Linked DNA regions of Homo sapiens: region 1 is linked to region 2. The links come from fine-mapping of genetic effects on gene expression. Tissue or cell type: whole blood. Region 2 holds a variant in brackets; the other region holds the start of a gene. All regions are shown on one strand. Distances are between the middles of the regions.

What was found.
Region 1: it holds the start of LSMEM1, and the variant in region 2 is fine-mapped to the expression of LSMEM1 in whole blood (GTEx, PIP above 0.99).

The regions. Positions count from the first base shown.
Region 1 is chr7:112,476,924-112,486,183 of GRCh38, reverse strand. It overlaps LSMEM1 (leucine rich single-pass membrane protein 1), which reads right to left and starts at 5,193. Exons shown (of 4, transcript NM_182597.3): 1 at 4,838-5,193; 2 at 1,241-1,372. The coding sequence starts at 1,367. It overlaps IFRD1 (interferon related developmental regulator 1), which reads right to left. Exons shown (of 12, transcript NM_001550.4): 12 at 8,981-9,260.
Region 2 is chr7:112,439,763-112,449,022 of GRCh38, reverse strand. It overlaps LOC105375457 (a long non-coding RNA gene), which reads left to right and starts at 5,673. Exons shown (of 3, transcript XR_001745325.2): 1 at 5,673-6,718; 2 at 7,310-7,505. It also overlaps a transcript of IFRD1 not described here. The variant G/A (reference allele first, on the strand shown) is at 3,736.

The DNA.
Region 1 (9,260 bases), 37 kb before region 2:
TATTTCCCTGGAAACTTCTTTTATTATAGGAATAATCAGTTAAGCCTACATCCATTTAAACAAAAATGGCCCTGACCTATTTTGGTTTTTTAAAGCTGTCTTCTGGATGGATATGCTCTGGAAGCAACGTTCTTTTAAATGCTTTGCAGTTGAACTGAGAATGCAGCTACATTTTATCGACAGCTTGGTTCACTCAAACCAAGAATTGACTGCATTTAATCACCGTTTTGCAAGATCTAGTTGCCTAATAACACCCAGATTATTTGTTGCAGTGAATAAGCAACGCAGAAACCTGGGGTAGTGGAGATCACTGGATTACTTTTTGCATACTCTCCTACGTTGAATTGGTCCCACTCACTGTGCCACTTGATTATGGACAGATGGGTGGCTTATGTCCCATGCCTTATAAGTACATCCTATGCCATACGCTTCAGCCACTTTTGCTTCCTAATCAAAGCAACAGCATAGGGCTGACACCTAAACTTCTACTGCTATTGAGACTGACAGCAATAAAAACAGATGAAAATTTGAACTTATTAAAATGAAGAAAAAAAGGAGGAACTTGGAAAGGATTTAGACAGGAAATAATAGATATAAAATTGGAACAGTAAGTTTAGAGTGCATATGAAACAAATGGCAAGTGAGCAATTAACACTGGTGTTTGAATGTCAGCATTTAAGCTAGAAAAGATGGCACTCAGAGTGATCTGATAAAGCTCATTTATAATATTTAGGAGGCAAGATACACACTTAGTATTTAGCAGATTTTATTTTGCTCCCCCCACCCCCTTTCTCCAACCCTTAATTGCACAATTTGTAACTTGTAAGTAGAAAATGCTCTGGATTGAGCATTCTCTCAGCAATCTGCTATAAAACAACACTCCTGTGGGAAGTGGTCCCCATCGGTAACCTAGCCATGGTCACTAGGAGAGGGATGAGCCAGCCTCCAGGAGTCCAGCTCTGCAGGCTCCACCCCTTTCCAGGGACAGAAACGCCACAGGATCTCAGAATATTTGAAGTCAAGAGTTCAAATCTCGTGTAGGATCCAAGAAAGCCCATAATCCTGTCAAGTATTCAGAAAACAAAAGCAAAATTGCCCAACAACAAATAACATTTCCAGTGCCAACCTCTTCCTAATGCCCCCTCCCCCTCCACCACACCCACACATCCAGTCAGCAGTGGCTATTTTTAGGTAGCCTAGAAGCTAGGAAGGGCTGCTGTGCCTTCCCCAGCACACATACGGAACAGATGCTGCGATCCGGCTGGACAGAGGTTTAGTTTGTTTAAGTCATTTATGGAATCCACCACATAAAGCTTTCCATCTTCCTGAATGCCACAAGAACCAGTGTCCTGGGAAGAATGAGTCATTGTCCCTGGAAGAAAACACTGATGTTAAAAACAAGAGGTTGGGCTTGTGAACTCAACTTCACAAGAACCACAGCCACCAGGAAGCCAGACAGGCCTATGAAGAACCACCCACAAATAGTATTTTCAACTAAGGCTCTAGAGAACTTGGCTTATCCAGAAAAAAATATTTCCTTCTGTGGACCACTTTGTAATCGTTCTTTTTGCTTTGCTTGCCAGGAAGCTCACAGTCAAATGTGTGGCCCAATTTTAAGAATTGTACATCCATGTATACCCTGCTTATCTGCAAACACTCTTTTCTCCTCCTCAGATGTCTCAGTTCTGCCTATATTTTCCCTGGATCTGTTTTTATTTTGTAACTAATTTTAAAATTTTTCTTTTATTACATTGTTCACATTCTGGTGAGATGCCTCAAATCCTTTGTGCAAGAAGACTAGGTAGACAAAATTAAGCTAGTCAGCAGTGGCCACAAAACATTCTGAAAAAAGAGAATATTACCATGAACCATTCTAATTGCAGGAGGCTTTAATAGAAAATTGCAATTTTTATAGCCTCCCTCCATATGGCATGTAAGTCCTTCTCTTCACACAATTCCTTTAGCCATAAGATGCTGACTGTGAGTCCCCAAGACAACAATCTTAGCAAACTTAGCTGCTATAGAGAGGAATGCTGCTAGACTTCAGGACCTCTGAGATCTCTTCCACCTGGGTTTCCCTTAGACTGAGGTCACTTATGTAATAGCTTGAGGTTTATTAAATATTGAAAGTAATATTCTCTAACGACAGCACAACTGCAAGCAACACTGAAAATCCTGAAGAGTTTAAAAGGTTTATGTGGAGATGTATCTCTAGCACAACAGAGAACTTGTGGCCATTTAATTATGTGAAAAGAAGCCTCTAGAAAGACAAATTTCAATTACTATAAAAGCTTTTCCTTTCATGGTTATCAAGTCTAATCGTGATAGAGGATGTTTGGATCTAGAAAGGGTGTTAGATGTGCTTTAGTTCCCATCCTTTCCGCAAATGAGGAAATGGAAGCTCGGCGAGGTAAATGCCCAGGATCACACATTTGCCTGGCAGCAGAGCTGGAATCGGGCCTTTTGTTCAGCATTCAATGAGTCTTGCTTTGTGCTACTTTTCTTTTCTATATCCCTTCCTAATCCTGCCTCAAGACTCAGCTCAAACATCACTTCCCCTAGGAAGAGAGAACCAACCTGTCTTTCCTTTTGCCTTTGCTGGATTCTTTACATTCTTCTATCAGAACATCTGTAGTATTTTATTGCATCTATTTGCTTACATCTTTGATTTCCCGATAGACTGAAAACTCCTTAGAGTAGGGACGAATCCTATTCTTCAAATGCCCAGTGCCAGGTTTAGAAGTTGGTGACTTATGTTAAGATGGAACACCTGAAATGTTTATTTAGGATTTAAATCTCACCATTTTCAAAAGAATTGGAGGCAGTTAATAATAAGTACATGAACAGAAATAAGATTGAGGATAAAAATCCTCATGTGATGTCTATCTGGACTCTAGTAAAGTCAATGCGATAAATATGGTGCCTGTGTGTATTTGACAACACACTGTTTACTTTCTGTTGTTGCAAAAATTTCCTTTAAAACTCATCTACAGAATGAAGAGCAATATAGAGTTGGGAGAAACCAAATTCATAAAAAAAAAAAAAAAGTATACACCTAAAGAAGATGTGGGGAAAAAAAGTATCAGACACTTACTGAGCAATTTAAACTTAGTCTAAAATATTAAAAAAACAATTTCCCAGTAATACCTAAAACTACTGGTACTTGTGAAAAATGTGCTACCAGAACCCTAGCTAAGAAAGTGAGCTCAAAAAGTCATGGACTAAAAATTTTTTTTAGGGTTAAAACTAAAAAAGTGTGTTTCACTTATCTTGAAATTTTAATTAACAAGAACAAACAATTCCCTGAGTTTTCAGATAAGATACTACCATAGCACTTTATTGACATTACTGAATTCCAAATATACTTCATAGAGCATTCCTAAGGAAATGACTTGATATGACAATTAAAAAAAATTAAAAAGCAGCAGCAAATAGAGTAAAAGGGCCTTAGAGGTCAGTCAAATCTTATCCTTTTGCAGTTAAAACCAAGGCCCCAAAATATTCACTCATGCATAGTCACAGATTTTAAAACAATTCTTTTAGATGTGTTTCATATTTTATCATCCATTTATACTAATATTTGACCAAACAGTAATATGTGACCAGGAAAAAAAGTTTTATGTGTCACATCACAGGACCACTGTTCTGCACACAGCTTCTATTTTAGGTGTGGTAACTGAAGCATGGTTCATTTTTGGATCTCTGACTTAATAGCCTTGAGCCTTAGCTTCCCCTTCAGGAATGTATCTGCTGTTGCTTCAATTTCATACTGAGGCTTAATCAATGTTTACAAAATAGAGACCTAGCTAGAAAATCATGGCCACAAAAACTGACTTTAAGAGTACAGCTAATAAAATCTCCATATTACTGGTCTTGCTATCTACTCAAAAGGTGACTCCAAAAAAAACTAAGACAACAACCTAGTGAGCCATGACGTGCTTTGAAAGAAAATGTCTTCTTTAGAGTGAAGTCACAATGTAAATATATGCTATTCCAATATTTTTTTAATGAGCTGCAACACGCAAATGGAAAAATAAAGAACTAGCAGAGAAAACTGAGTTGGGTGCTGTTCCAGGGCTCCAAGAGCCTGCAAATGACTTGCAAATGACTCATGAGGCTGCTAGTAAAGGGATACAAGATCACATGGCCTTAAAACCAGGCCCCACGGCTGTTTGACACCCAGTAGTTGCTATCTTTGGCATCTCCAAATGAGGGCATCTAGGAACAACCAGCAAGGCTGGAGAAGCCAGTGTTACTAGCAATTCTTCATCACACTAACTTGACCCTCCTTTCAACTCCAGTGTGCAAATTTGCTTATTCACCAAGATTGGCTAAAGCAGCATCCCTTTAACAGAACCCTTTCTTATACCTTGACTGGAAACATGTAAGTAATTTCATTTTCCTCTGGTTTAGATCACTGCTAACAGTTGATTTTTTGTCATTTAAGAATTCTTTGACTATTTACAAATAAATATTCCAACAAATAAAGATAATTGTCTATGAAAAATTGCCTGGTGCTTTATTTTTTAACCAGGCAGGTGCTTGGTATCAAACCACAGAAATAACTCACACCAGTATTGCTTGCCACAAAATCAGAATTGTTATAATAGGGCATAATTCAAAGCTAATAAGCAGTGTTATTGAATGAGTCATGGTAATTTGTTCTTTAATTTCATTTCCCAGTCAATGCCTCTTCACATTCAGGAAGTAATTTTTAAAATCAAGTCTAAATCATTTCTATCAAAAATGAAAAACACAGAGCACATGCAACAAAAACTTCCCAGACTCGAGAATCATAATTCAGTCTCAGTAGAGTAATAGCATGCAAATTACTTACAAAAATGTGAGCTTTGACTGCTAGGTTACCAGAAAAACAAAACAAAACAAAACAAACAAACAAAAACTAATTGTTCAGAAGCAACTACAACAAAACTTTTCTACAAATTCTGTAGTTCTCTCTTTGCCTTTCTTCAGCATACGGGTGCTCCTATGAGACCCATAAGCCCCAGGATGAAACTGTTGGTCTATATTGTGTCAATTTAGCCAAGCAGTGTAAGATTCCAAATCCTGACTTTTTTCATAATGTCTAAGGTTTTTAGTAAATATATTACTAAAACTATGCTTTAAAAAGAAAACAACAAAAAAACACCATGCCCTGATTTAGTTGGTAACTGATGAGGTTTTTATTGGACTGAAGTTACCGTCCTTATCTGGCTGAAGCAACTGTTAGCTGACACCACCTTTCCAGCACTCCTGCCATGGTATGCTTCCATATATAAATATCCTGTAGCAGGCGGAAGCTGCCACTATGATGACTGACTTGCAAACACTCCAGACAAACCAGAGAACTGCAATAAACACGGACAGAATATGATTATGACATCATAACAAGGATGATGGCAGGTCAGACGCCTAGTGCTTCCAGTAGCTACAAAAAGCGATTGTGAGTGGGCGATTTCATGGATACAGACCCACCACAGGTGAAGGAAGCACTCCATCTCATCGGCCGCCTTTCCTTTACAAAGGCTTTGTTCTGTGAGTGTCTGCACATCCTCCTTTCTCAGGAATAACAGCCTTCCATATATGTGGTTCCCTCACATACATGCCAAGGAGCTTCTGCCCTCTGCTGTACATAAAAGATGCTACAGTGATGAGGAGACCAACTATCTCAGCAGGATACTAACAGTGAGGTTGTGAACAACTGTGCAATCCTTTATCATCCTCACTTCCATTGCCATAGCTTGATGGACATTATTCATCTTTGAAACATTTTTCATGTCAGTGAGAAAATAGGTGTTCCACAAAATTTTCTTTGAGACAGAGTCTTGCTGTGTTGCCCAGGCTGGAGCGCAGTGGCATGATCCCAGCCTACTGAGACCTTCCTGCTTCCAGATTCTCCTGCCTCAGCCTCCCAAGTAGCTGGGATTACAGGTATGTGCCACCATAGCTGGCTAATTTCTTTATTTTTAGTAGAGATGGGGTTTCACCATGTTGGTCAGGCTAGTCTTGAACTCCTGACCTCAAGTGATCCACCCACCTCGGCCTCCCAAAGTGCTGGGATTACAAACTTGAGCCACCATGCCCGGCCCAAAATTTTCTTTACACCTATATCCCATACGGACCTCACTCTGCTTTGGGGGAAGAGGAATGTCATTTTTTTTTTCCCTTCACACTACCTAGTCTAAGAGGGAATGTCATTTTTTCAAGCCTCATCTGTACCCAAAGACTAATTCTTGGAGGAAGACAATATAACTAGTAACTTTTCTCAGAAACATACGTTAAAAAGCTATGTCAAATTTCTCTGAATAATGAAAATGTTCATGTTAGCTATTATGCTGTTTTTAAGAAATCTCCCAACTACCTGATCTGCCTTGAGCCATGTATCCTTTGAAGATATAATAGAAGTAACTGCCTCATTTTGGGGCGTTTACTACTTTTCCTCTCCTGTAACTTCTAACTTTGTGGAATATTAACTTCCCCTGAAGGAGGAAGGAAATGGAGACTAAGGAATTTAATTGTTGAGGGATACACTGATTATAAGTGGCAGAGATGAGATGTAAACCCATACCTCGCATTCAAGTCTGAATTGAACTATACACCAGTGAGGGGGATAAGACTGCCTTTAGACCAGTTAGACTTCTGGAAAGCCACTTAAGAACAAAGCAAGACAACCTACTTCATTTTAACTATAACATACCTGCAAGACCACCTTTAAGAAGAGTTTTGGGGCCGAGTGCGGTGGCTCATGCCTGTATTCCCAGCACTTTGGGAGGCCGAGACAGGCAGATTAACTGAGGTCGGAAGTTCGAGACCAGCCTGACCAACAAGGAGAAACCCCATCTCTACTAAAAATACAAAATTAGCCGGGTGTGGTGGCACATGCATGTAATCCCAGCAACTCAGGAGGCTGAGGCAGATTATACCATTGGACTCCAGCCTGGGCAACAAAAACGAAACTTCATCTCAAAAGAAAAAAAAAGAGTTTTGGGTCACAAAAAGAGATATTCTCACATGAAGTGTCTAATCTAGGGACATTCTCAAGTATTTGCTTTTTCTTTCATATATTACATCTCAGGGTATCTAAATTCACTCCCAGGAAATTTAGTACCCATCAAAGAGGAGTCACAGACAATGAATACTTCAAAATGCTTGAGCCTCAAAATAATGAAAGCGGGCAAAATTAATCAAGAATCAAGCAATGAACAACTAGTCTATAACACAACATTTTTCTACTTTCAAGAAAACACAAGCATTCTTACACATTGAACACCCAGCCACCCTTGTCTAGCAGTTACCACAAGTTTCATGAATAAAGTCACCTGCATATAAATTCAACATGCAGATTAACACTCTATACCTTCTTCCTCCCAAAAGCCCAGTAAAAAAGCAGGAGTACAAATTACAAAACCAGAAAAATTAAAATAGGAAGAAACAATACTGAAGAGCTCAATAAATGTATTGAACATGGTAAGAAGAGTGGTATCTGCCTTAGCAGGGCTATCACAGATGAGTGACAGTAGGACTGATCCTGCAGAATTCAGGCAGGCCTAGGATTTAGAGGCAAGAGTGTGGCATGGAGCTACACAGAGGCAAGTAATTTAATGCTAGCCAAAAACAAAATGCAATACAAATTGGAAAATTGTCTTAGAGAAATATCCCAGACAGAAAAAAAAAAAATAAATAAGGCCCAAGATTCAATTTGGGAGCTCCACTATGTCATAGAGTTCCAGAACAAAGAAAATGAGGAGGAAGAGAAGAGATGAAGAACTTAATATTTTCCAGGTTGCCAATCCCACCAAAGCACAGTATCATGCAATTTTAGAACACTAGAAACAGAGATGCTGAGAAAACAAAGAAATAAAAATAAAAACTGCATCAGATATCTCAAGATTTTGCAAATTAGAATAGAGCAATGCCTTCAAAATTCTGAATTTGAATACACTTGTCAAAATTTTCAAAAATTCCAAATTTGATTTTCCACCTAGAATTTCCATGCAAACTATCTTTCAGAAATATGAAGTCACTAAATAACTGACTGATCTCTCACGCACTCATTCCCAAGAAACTACTGAAAGAAGTGCTCCATGTTAACAAAGAAGTAAATTAAGACATGGGATCCAGAAAATGAGGGATACAATTCAAGAGAAAGAAAAACAAATCCTCACGATAGTGCTGTCTCAGGAAAACTGCTATACAATTGGATGAGAGAAACTAGTCTAGATTGAAACAAGTACAGAATCAAGAAAAGTTGTGACAAATTTATTTGGGACTGTTTGGGAAGAATCAATGATGTGCATAAAAAGCCAAAAAAAAGAGCATTAACTCCAAGACAAAACGTTGTATGAGAATGAAAATGTAAGCACATTAAATTAATTCACGAGTGAACATACAAGTATGATCACAGCTATGCAAACAGGTACATGATCTAACCAAAATAATATTAGAAGGATGTGAAACAATAAAAGAAATTTTCACCTGTCTTAATAGTAAGTTGACAAACACCTAAAAAATAAATGGCTGTATAATCATATTATTTAGAAACCTAAAACCAAAAACTGAAGGCTGAAAGAACCGAGCTAGAAAAAACTGAAGGCTGAATGTCTCTTGGGATGGGACTGAGGAATAGGAAAGGATGGAGCAAGGGGCTTTCCTTATTAGCCTTGAAGTACCATTAAACTATGTTCAGGCTGGGCACGGTGGCTCATGCCTGTAATCCCAACACTTTGGGAGACCAAGGCGGGCAGATCACTTGAGGTCAGGAGTTCAAGACCAGCCTGGCCAACATGGTGAAACCCCATCACAACTAAAAATATAAATTAGCCAGGTGTGGTGGAACACACCTGTAATCCCAGCAACTCAGGAGGCTGAGGCAGGAGAATCGTTTGGACCCTGAAGGCAGAGGTTACAGTGAGCCAAGATTGCGCTACTGCACCCCAGCCTGCGCAACAGAGGGAGACTGTCTCAAAAACAAACAAAAACCTATGTTCATACAACACTTTAATAAAAATTCATTATTTATTTATAATTACATGTACATACATATATGCATTTGAATATCTAGAAGAAACTACCATTTGCAATCTCTTTTCCATGGTTCTAACCTACTTGGAACATAACCAAGTGACAACATACAAACAAGTTCTAGATTCTAAACCTGTTTTCCACTGCACTGTAACTGGGGGATGGGACTCAGCAACAGTGACTCCATAAGCCAGCAAATGATTTTCACCTAGAGGGAGCACCAGACTTCCAAGAGTTGT
Region 2 (9,260 bases):
TTAGCCTGGCCCTGACTCCCTTTCCAGCCTCATCTTTCACTGCTTCCTCATACAGTTCTTGTTCTTCAGCCAAACAGGACTGCTTTTCATTTCCAATACACGGCTCTCTTCTCCTACCTCCATTTCCTCATTCATATTCTTTCCTGTTCTTGTAATGCCTTTCCTCCCATCTTCACCTTAAGAAATTTTATCCACCGTTCAAGATGTAGCTCATGCTGCCACCTTCCTGAAGCCTCCAGCCAGAAGTTTCTTCCTCCTCACAACTCTTTGACACTCATCCTAATAATGCCCTAATGGCACTTATTACCTCCCCACACGGCCTACTCAAAGATGCTATTTAATGGGCAACATTTCAGGGTTGCTTTTACTTTGTTTAATCCTGAAGCAGCCAGTAAACTGCACAGAGCACAGAAACCAAATACGGAGGCAGGTTGTGGGGGAGGAAGCAGCTCACACTGACTCCTTGTATCTAGAGGCACACTGCAACTCAGTGACAGGGCCTATACAGAATGAGATGTCTCACAGAATTGTAGACTCAATAACTTTTATAACCCTAGGCTCTTCACCATCCAGAAACAATTTATACTATACATAAGGCAACAGTTTTGCCACTCTGGAGTCACATCACCTAGGCCTAACATCCAGGTTCCAGCCCTGGAAACGTGTGCTTTGCATTTGGGGCAGGGGCTTTTTTTCCAAATCCCTTCACATCCACTTAGTCGTTCTGCGGCAGGCCTGGCCATGGCCCACCACATCATATACGTACTTGTTTTACATTTATTTGTGAATACATCTGTCATCTCATGAAATTATCAGCTTCCCAAGAACAAAAATCTTTTCCTCTTTTTAATTTCTTTTCTTTTTTTCTTACTTTTCTTTCTTTTTTTTTTTTTTTTAAATCTACAGGCCCAGGAACTTGAAAAAATCTTGCTGTATCCCTCATGGCACAAAAGGAAGTGTTACATTTGAAATTGAAATTATAGTCAGTATATATATAGTTAAATGAACATTTAAGAAATAATTGTTGACTAGATTTTTCTGGATCAAGGAAAGGGAGAAACTTATGTATCACTACATACATACATTCTGGATCAAGGAAAGGGAGAAACTACTTATCACTACAAACATGAAGTACAGCCTTCAGTATAATGAATTCTGAGAGATACTGTACTTTTGATAAAATTACCTTACTATAGTTTTATGCCTGCAGTTTAGCTCCAGACCAGTGCAAACATCACAAAGATGTAGCCCACCTCCTCATGGGACAGTGGTCTTCAGCTCCACATACTATTTTGCAATATGTTTAAAGAAATTAGAAGACTCCAAACATCAAGTCACTAAATGATTACAAATACCAGAAAGGAAGGGGAAGCACGAAAGGGAACAGGAAAAAGGGCTTTCTCCAGACTTTGCCTTTTTCTTCAGGAAAGACCACACTCCCTAGAAACTTCCACCTACATGTTGACCAGAACTGTGTCACAGGATGATCCCTAGCTGCAAGGAAGTTTAGAACACAAGTATTTTCGGTTGGGCTCATTCGCAAACAAAATTGAGGTTCTGTTGTTAAGAATGAAGGGGAAACCATGGATATAAGGTAGACAAATAGCAATGTCTGCCTCATATATCAGGAGGCAAAATACTCTCATGCTCTAATAAATAAATATCACATATTTGTTACCAACATGACATTATGTGCTGCCTCAACATTTAAGTCATTGTAAAATATATTCTTCTTTTACAAAACAACTTAGTTTAACATTCCATGGAACAGAAATCACCATCAGGGTAAGTATACTCAAATGTTGCAAAAATAAATCTTACATTAATCAGAATTTAGGGGCACGCCTGAGAAGAGTTCTAAGTTCTCATTGATGACTTTGATTCAAGAACAAGTAATAAAGATAAGATTCAGTATTCATACCTTCCTTGAAGGCATAAACATGAAAGGTTTTCTTTGAATGACTTTAGTCATGGCCTCCTTGGGATTCTCTGCATAGCACTGAGCAGAAATAATACCTCCCAGATCCTCCATGTAGGGCTTGTCGGAATCTGTTTCTTGCCTGTATCTCCCAAATCACTTCTCTCATCACCTAACACAGTCCCTTTCCTAATGCCATATCAAACTCTTAGCAGGTCTCTGAGCTCACCACTCTCAAGCTTCCAGGCCTTACCTAGGTTTGGCACATACCTCTCTCTCCATATTGCATCTCCTGCCCCTCTTTTCATCCACTGCATTTCAGCCACACTGGTCTTTGCCAACTTAAAAACACAAAGTTCATTCCCCACTTAAGACTTGCAACAGCTCCTCCCTCTGCCTGATATGATCAACCCGAGCTTCCCACACTTGCCATTCAGATCTGAGCTTAAATGACACCTACCTGAAGAGGCCTTCCTACTCTCCCACTCTTCCACTCTCCATTCTAAGGTCGCATCCTCACCCCACCTACCACCAGCACCTCCACCCTGCTTATATTCTCCCAAAGTACATCGCACTACTTAATATTTTTTGGCCCAATTATTTTTTGTCTCTTCTACTAGAATGTTAGAATTACAAGAAAGAGATCCTGTCTGTTTTATTCACTATTGTATCTTCAGTACTGGAACAGTACGTGGCACTTAGATATTCAATTATTTTTTACTGAATGTTTACACCACTCCTGAGAAGAATAAGCGTAAGCGAAAGAAGGTGAAGCTGGCTGTCCTGAAATACTGTAAGGTGGATGAGAATGGCAAAATAAGTCGCCTTCATCTAGAGTGCTCTTCAGATGAATGTGGTACTGGAGCGTTTATGGCCAGCCACTTTGACAGACATTATTGTGACAAATGTCTCATTGCTTCAGCAAACCAGAAGACAATTAATTGTGTATGAGTTAATAAAAGACATGAACTAACAAAACACATTTACTGAATGAATAAATGTATTAATAATTAAATGTCACTCCTCTGCCTAGAACATCCTTCCCCACGATCTCCCCATCATCCTTTAAGTTACTGATCCTCGGTCACTAATCCTGGGCCCCCCAAATTGTCTGATTTAAATGTCTTTCTTTTTTGTTCTTGCAGTGCCTTCTTTAGACTAGCATTAATTATATGTATTGTAGGGTTTTTTTACTTCTTTTTTTTTAATATGTATTGTAGTTCTTGATTACTTGTCTGTTTTCCCCTCAGACATGAGATACAAGCTACATGCTACTTGTGGGCAAAGCCCAGTTTTGTCACTTCTGAAACACACATGTAGCACCTTTGTGCAAATTAGAAACAGAACACCAAGTCTGATGAGTGTTTATGGGCTGGAATCCAGTCACCAATCTCTCTTCAGCAGGGAACAACCTATACATCTGTACATAGTGGCCCAGTAGACAATAACTGTGTTTTTAATTGAATGAGGGAGTCAATTTCCTCTGTATTTTAGCAGTTTTCTTAAAAGCAAAGGAACTAATGTGGGGAAAAGGATGAGGCTAACATTTATTGCAAGTCCACACTGCCACTGTTCTAGACTGTTTTCACACCTCTCATGTAATTCTTACAACAACCCTACGCAGAAAAGATTAGTTTTACCATTTTGTGGATGAAGAAATGAGCTTAGAGAGGTTTTGCAACTTCCCCAAGGTCGTACCATTGGTAAACAGTGCGTCTGTTGTGATGAAAGCCTAGGCCGGCCGGGCGGGGTAACTCACACCTGTAATCCTAGCACTCTGGGAGGCCAAGGTGGGCGGATCACAAGGTCAGGAGATC[G/A]AGACCATCCTGGCTAACACGGTGAAACCCCGTCTCTACTAAAAATATAAAAAATTAGCCGGGCGTGGTGGCGGGCGCCTGTAGTCCCAGCTACTCGGGAGGCTGAGGCAGGAGAATGGCATGAACTCGGGAAGCGGAGCTTGCAGTGAGCCGAGATTGCGCCACTGCACTCCAGCCTGGGTGACAGAGCGAGACCCTGTTTCAAAAAAAAAAAAAAAAAAAAAAGAAAGCCTAGGCCTATCTGATTCCAAGTTTGCCTCTGGCTGGCTTTGGTCATATGGGAACCTGAGTGCTTGTTCCTAGGAGTCATGGGTTTTCTTGTTTGCTTTTTTATAATTTCAACTTTTAGATTCAGGGTATAATGTACAGGTTTGTTACATGGTTATATTGCATGATGCTGAGGTTTGGGATATGAATGATCCCGTCACCTAGGTAGTGAGCATAGCACCCAGTAGTTTTTCAACTCTTTCCCCCTCCATCCCTCCCGCCTCTAGTAGTCCCCAGTGTCACTGTTGCTTTTTTATGTCCAGAGTCATGGGTTTTATTTGCAATGCTGCGAGAAAAGGCCCCTTGAAGTTAAATTTTGCCTTGTTCCCCTTTTTTTTAGAGTCTCTTCACCCCTAGTATCAGTATACAGGGGACATTCAGTTGTTGACTGCCTGATGAATGTTTGCCAGTGTAAGTTTTTTCTGATATTTCTAAAGCTTTAGCAGAACTTTATTATTAAATAGTAATGTTATTCCATCAAATAATTTTTTACATGGATTATCACTTGTTGTGTTTTAGATTGCATTGTTTTCTTAATATGTTTGCAATTTTTGTTTTATTGCCAAGAATGGTGATAATACAGCATGCTAAATTTGAGATCCCTGTTTGTTAAGAAATGATTCGGCGGGCAAATTTAGTTAGAACTCTTTAAGCCTTAAGATATATTTTGTTTGCTTTTTTCTTTTTGTTGTGTAGAAGATACTTCTTTGTGGTTTTCAGTTTTGAAATTACATACACTTTCTGTAATGAAATTTCTGACAAAAGACAGTCAGTGTTTAATTGTCTTCTAAAATGGGAATGTTGCTTATCTCACAAAGCTGCAGTATTATCAATAATAAAATATGAGACTGTGTTAACAGGGTACTGTGAGCCATAAGTACCATAATACACACAGCCAAACTAGGATAGTTATGACGCATTATGTTGGAAGAACTTTTTATGGCAACAGCGTAAGTAGGAATTATCTTTTTGTTGAACATAAAGAATATCAGTGGACTTTTCCATTTGGATATCCTGACTCTTCATACCAAACATAACCAAAATCAACTTGTTCTTTACCAACCTCTCTACATTCTACAACTAGTTTTGTTTTTTTGTTTTTGTTTTTGTTTTTTTGGTGGGGGATGGTGTTTGTTTTTTGGGTTTTTTTTTTTTTTTGAAACAGAGTTTCACTCTTGTCACCCAGGCTAGAGTGCCATGGTGCGATCTCGGTTCACTGCAACCTCCACCTCCCGGGTTCAAGCAATTCTCCTGCCAAAGCCTCCCGAGGGATTACAGGCGTTCACCACCATGCCTGGCTAATTTATGTATTTTTAGTAAAGACGGGGTTCATCATGTTGGCCAGGCTGGTCTCGAACTCCTGACAAGTGGTCCACACACCTCGACCTCCCAAAGTGCTGGGATTACAGGCATGAGCCACCACACTCGGCCGTTTTTGGGGGGCTTTTTTTGAGATGGGTCTCCCTCTGTCATCCAGGCTGGAGTACAGTGGTGCCATCACAGCTCACTGCAGCCTTGACCTCCTGGGCTCAAGCAATCCTCCCGTCTCAGCCTCCTGAGTAGCTGGGATACAGACGCATGTATCCCAGCTAATTTACTTATTTATGTTTGTAGAAATGAGGTCTTGCTGTGTTGCCTAGGCTGGTCTCAAACTCCTGGGCTCAAGCAGTCCTCCCAAAGTGCTGGGATTACAGGCATGAACCACCACACCCAGTCTACAACCAGTTCTTGTTCCCAGCTTTCTCCGTGTGGTAGTACTAATCTTACGGCCAACCACCAGAGAATCTTAAATAGTTGAAAATTTCTTAAGGGGTAACCTACTTCAGACTCCTGCCTCACCTGGGAAACGACTGACAACATGATTAAGATCCAAGGCTCTAACTCAGTATTCCAGGGTTCAAATCCTGGCCATACTATTTGCAATGGATTCTTGAGCAAGTAACTTCACTCTTCCATGCCTTGGTTTCAATGTGATTAATGATAGAACCTATTTCATGTGGTTGGAATGAGGAATACATGAAACAATACAAGTAAAGTACTTAGCTCAGTACTCAGCACATAGTAAACAATGTTAGCCATTAATATTAGTCAACAGATATTTATCATTTTTTCTTAAACTCTGACAGTGCTAGAACTCACACAACTCTTCAGGGAAGCTCATTCCAACAGTGGATATTTGTCATATTTTGAAAAGTCTCAATTCCTTCAACAAATATTCCTCAGGTGTCCACTATATACCAAGCATGTTCTAGAGCATGAGAACAAAGAGATGACTGAAAACAGTGTTTGTCCTCATAAAGTCCCTAGTCCAGCAACAGAACTCAGTACCAGGTGGCCCGTGGCTGTCCGTCCCTCTCAGCCCATTTGGAGGTGACTCTTGCTTCTCTCTTGATGGATCAGCTTTCACTGCCCACCCCCAGGGACATGACCAAAGAGGTTCCTCCTCTCTACCCCTAAGCGGTGAGTCCATAGGCTCCCTGGAGAGTTCAGTCATCTCTTCTGGAGCAAGTCACCTAGCAGCAGTGAACCTCCATTTCTTTATCTCAAAAATGGGAGTCAATAATCCCTGCCTTATTGATGTCACTGGATTGTCATAAAAATGACATCATTATGTAAAGGTCTTTGTAACCTGCCACGTACTCTATAATGATGAGATACTCCTTATATTAAACCAAAGAAAGAAATGACTCTGCTAAAGATGGAATTTTAGACATCAGTAAGCAAGGGAAGATCTTTTGGCTGGGAGCTGATAAAGTGGTTAACAGGAGAAATTTACTAAGCCCCAGATCAGACTTATAAGGACAAGACTAGACTGACTCAACCAGGCCTCCAGCATTGCTCCTAAAAATCTTATTGGAGGCCATATACTGTGCTGGAGGGTCACCGAGTTTTAGATCCAGACAGACAGAACTAGAGTCAAAATGCCTTATCAACCACTTACTAGTTTGGTGACTGTGTGCAAGTTCCTTAATCTAAGCTATATGAATGAGGAATGTATGAAACAGTACATGTTAGCCATTAATATTAGTAAGCAGATATTTATCCATTTTTTTCTTAAATTCTGCGAGTGCTAGGAATCACACAACTCTTCAGGGCCGCTAGTTTCAACACTGGATAGTCATCATTTTTGGAAAAGTCTCAGTTCCTTCAACAAACATTCCTCAGGTGTCCACTATATACTAAGCATGTTCTAGAGCATGAGACAAAGGGATGCCTGAAAATAGAGTATTTGGCCTCATAAAGTTCCTAGTCTAGCACGAGAGCTCAGCATTATTTGTAAATCAGATTCTCTCTCCTTGGAATTCAGAATTAGAACTGAGAGACACTCAAAGATTCTGGACTGTCTTCTGAGCAGAGAATAAAAAGTAGCTATCATCTGCCCACCACAGACATGAAAAAACAAGAAAGACAGTTTGCAGAGAGGAGAGAATGAAACAGGACTGTAGAGAGAAGCAGAGACAAGAAATGGATCTTCCCATCTCGTCATGAGCTTCCACTTCCAGGTAGGCAGAACTACCAGAGACTCAATTGAATTCCTGCCTTAGGCTTCCAGGGAACATCCTGAACTTTTTTTTTTTTTCTGAGATGGTGTCTTGCCTCTCACCCAGACTGGAGTGTAGTGGTGCGATCACAGCTCACTGAGGTCAGGTAACCCTCCCACCACAGCCTCCAAAGCCGCTGGGACTACAGGTGTGCACCACCATGCTCGGCTAATTTTTGTTTTTGTTTTTGTTTTTGTTTTTTTTAAGACAGGATCTCACTCTATTGCCCAGGCTGGAGTGCAGTGGCGTGGTGTTGGCTCACTGCAACCTCCGTCTCCCAGGTTCAAGCAGTTCTTCTGCCTCAGCCTCCCAAGTAGCTGGGATTACAGGCGCACACCACGAACGCCCAGCTAATTTTTGTGTTTTTCGTAAAGACAGGGTTTCACCATGTTGGCCAGGACGGTCTCAAATCTCTTGACCTCATGATCCACCCTCCTCAGCCTCCCACCAAAGTGTTGGGATTACAGGTGTGAGCCACCCTGCCTAGCCTAATTTTTGTATTTTTTGTAGAGACGGGGTTTTGCCATGTTTCCAAGGCTGGTCTGGAACTCCTGGACTCACACAGTCCGCCCACCTTGGCGTCCCAAAGTACTGGGATTACAGGGGTGAGCCATTGCACCCAGCCTGAACTTTTAAAATAAATTGTTTCTTATGCTCAAGTTAGGTCCAGTCAGTTTTTATTTCTTGCAAACTAGGATAGTTTACAGTTTCTCCTTAGCACTCCTCTGTTTTTTTGATTAGTGTCTCTTGGAGTTCCAGAAAACTGTCCAGGCATTTGCAAGTGGGACTTTAAAAGCCTATCTTTTACACTCAGATGAAAGGCAGTAGGAAGTAGGAACAGATTCTCTAACACTTTGGAGGCATGTTAGCACCTTTCTAAATTATGGAGAATGAGTGAACTGCCAAATTTCATTCATCATTACTGATATTTATTGTGAACCAATCCAGCCAAAAGAATTCTGAACAGACACTTTAAAAACCTATGCCAAACTGAATTGACCGTACCAGGCTTATCACATTTAAATATTTATTTAAAATAGTCTTTAAATTATAATTATGTTAATTGTTTTATTAAAATCAAGAGAGAAAACTAACCATTTATCAAACTGCTGAGACTGCTAAAAGATTTATCAGCCTTATATAAATAAGACACACTTAGTAAATATTTTCATTCCATTCAAGAAAGGCTTTTGTGACCGAGTGCCGTGGCTCACACCTGTAATCCCAGCATTTTGGGAGGCCAAGGCAGACAGATCACTTGAGGTCAGGAGTTCGAGACTAGCCTAGCCAACATTGGGAAACCCCATCTCTACTAAAAATACAAAATTAGCTTGGCATGGTGGCGAACGCCTGTAGTCCCAGCTACTCTGGAGGCTGAGGCAGGAGAATTTCTTGAACCCAGGAGGCAGAGGTTGCAGTGAGCCGAGATTGCACCACTGCACTCCAGCCTAGGTGACAGAGCAAGACTGCATCTCAAAAAAAAAAAAATGGCTTTTGAAATTAATTTGTTGCAGACATCATTGATTTCCTGCCGCAGATCCATCTTACTCTCTTGCTTATTCTCAGAACCCCAATTTTGTTCAGATATCCAACCTCCTTCGAGGGGCCATGTGCTTCAGGGGAAGGCTGGACCCCAGCTCCAGGGGTTGGGTCATAATCGATTCCTCTTTTAATTGATTCCTCTTATAATTGATTCCTCTTATAAATGGTTTATTC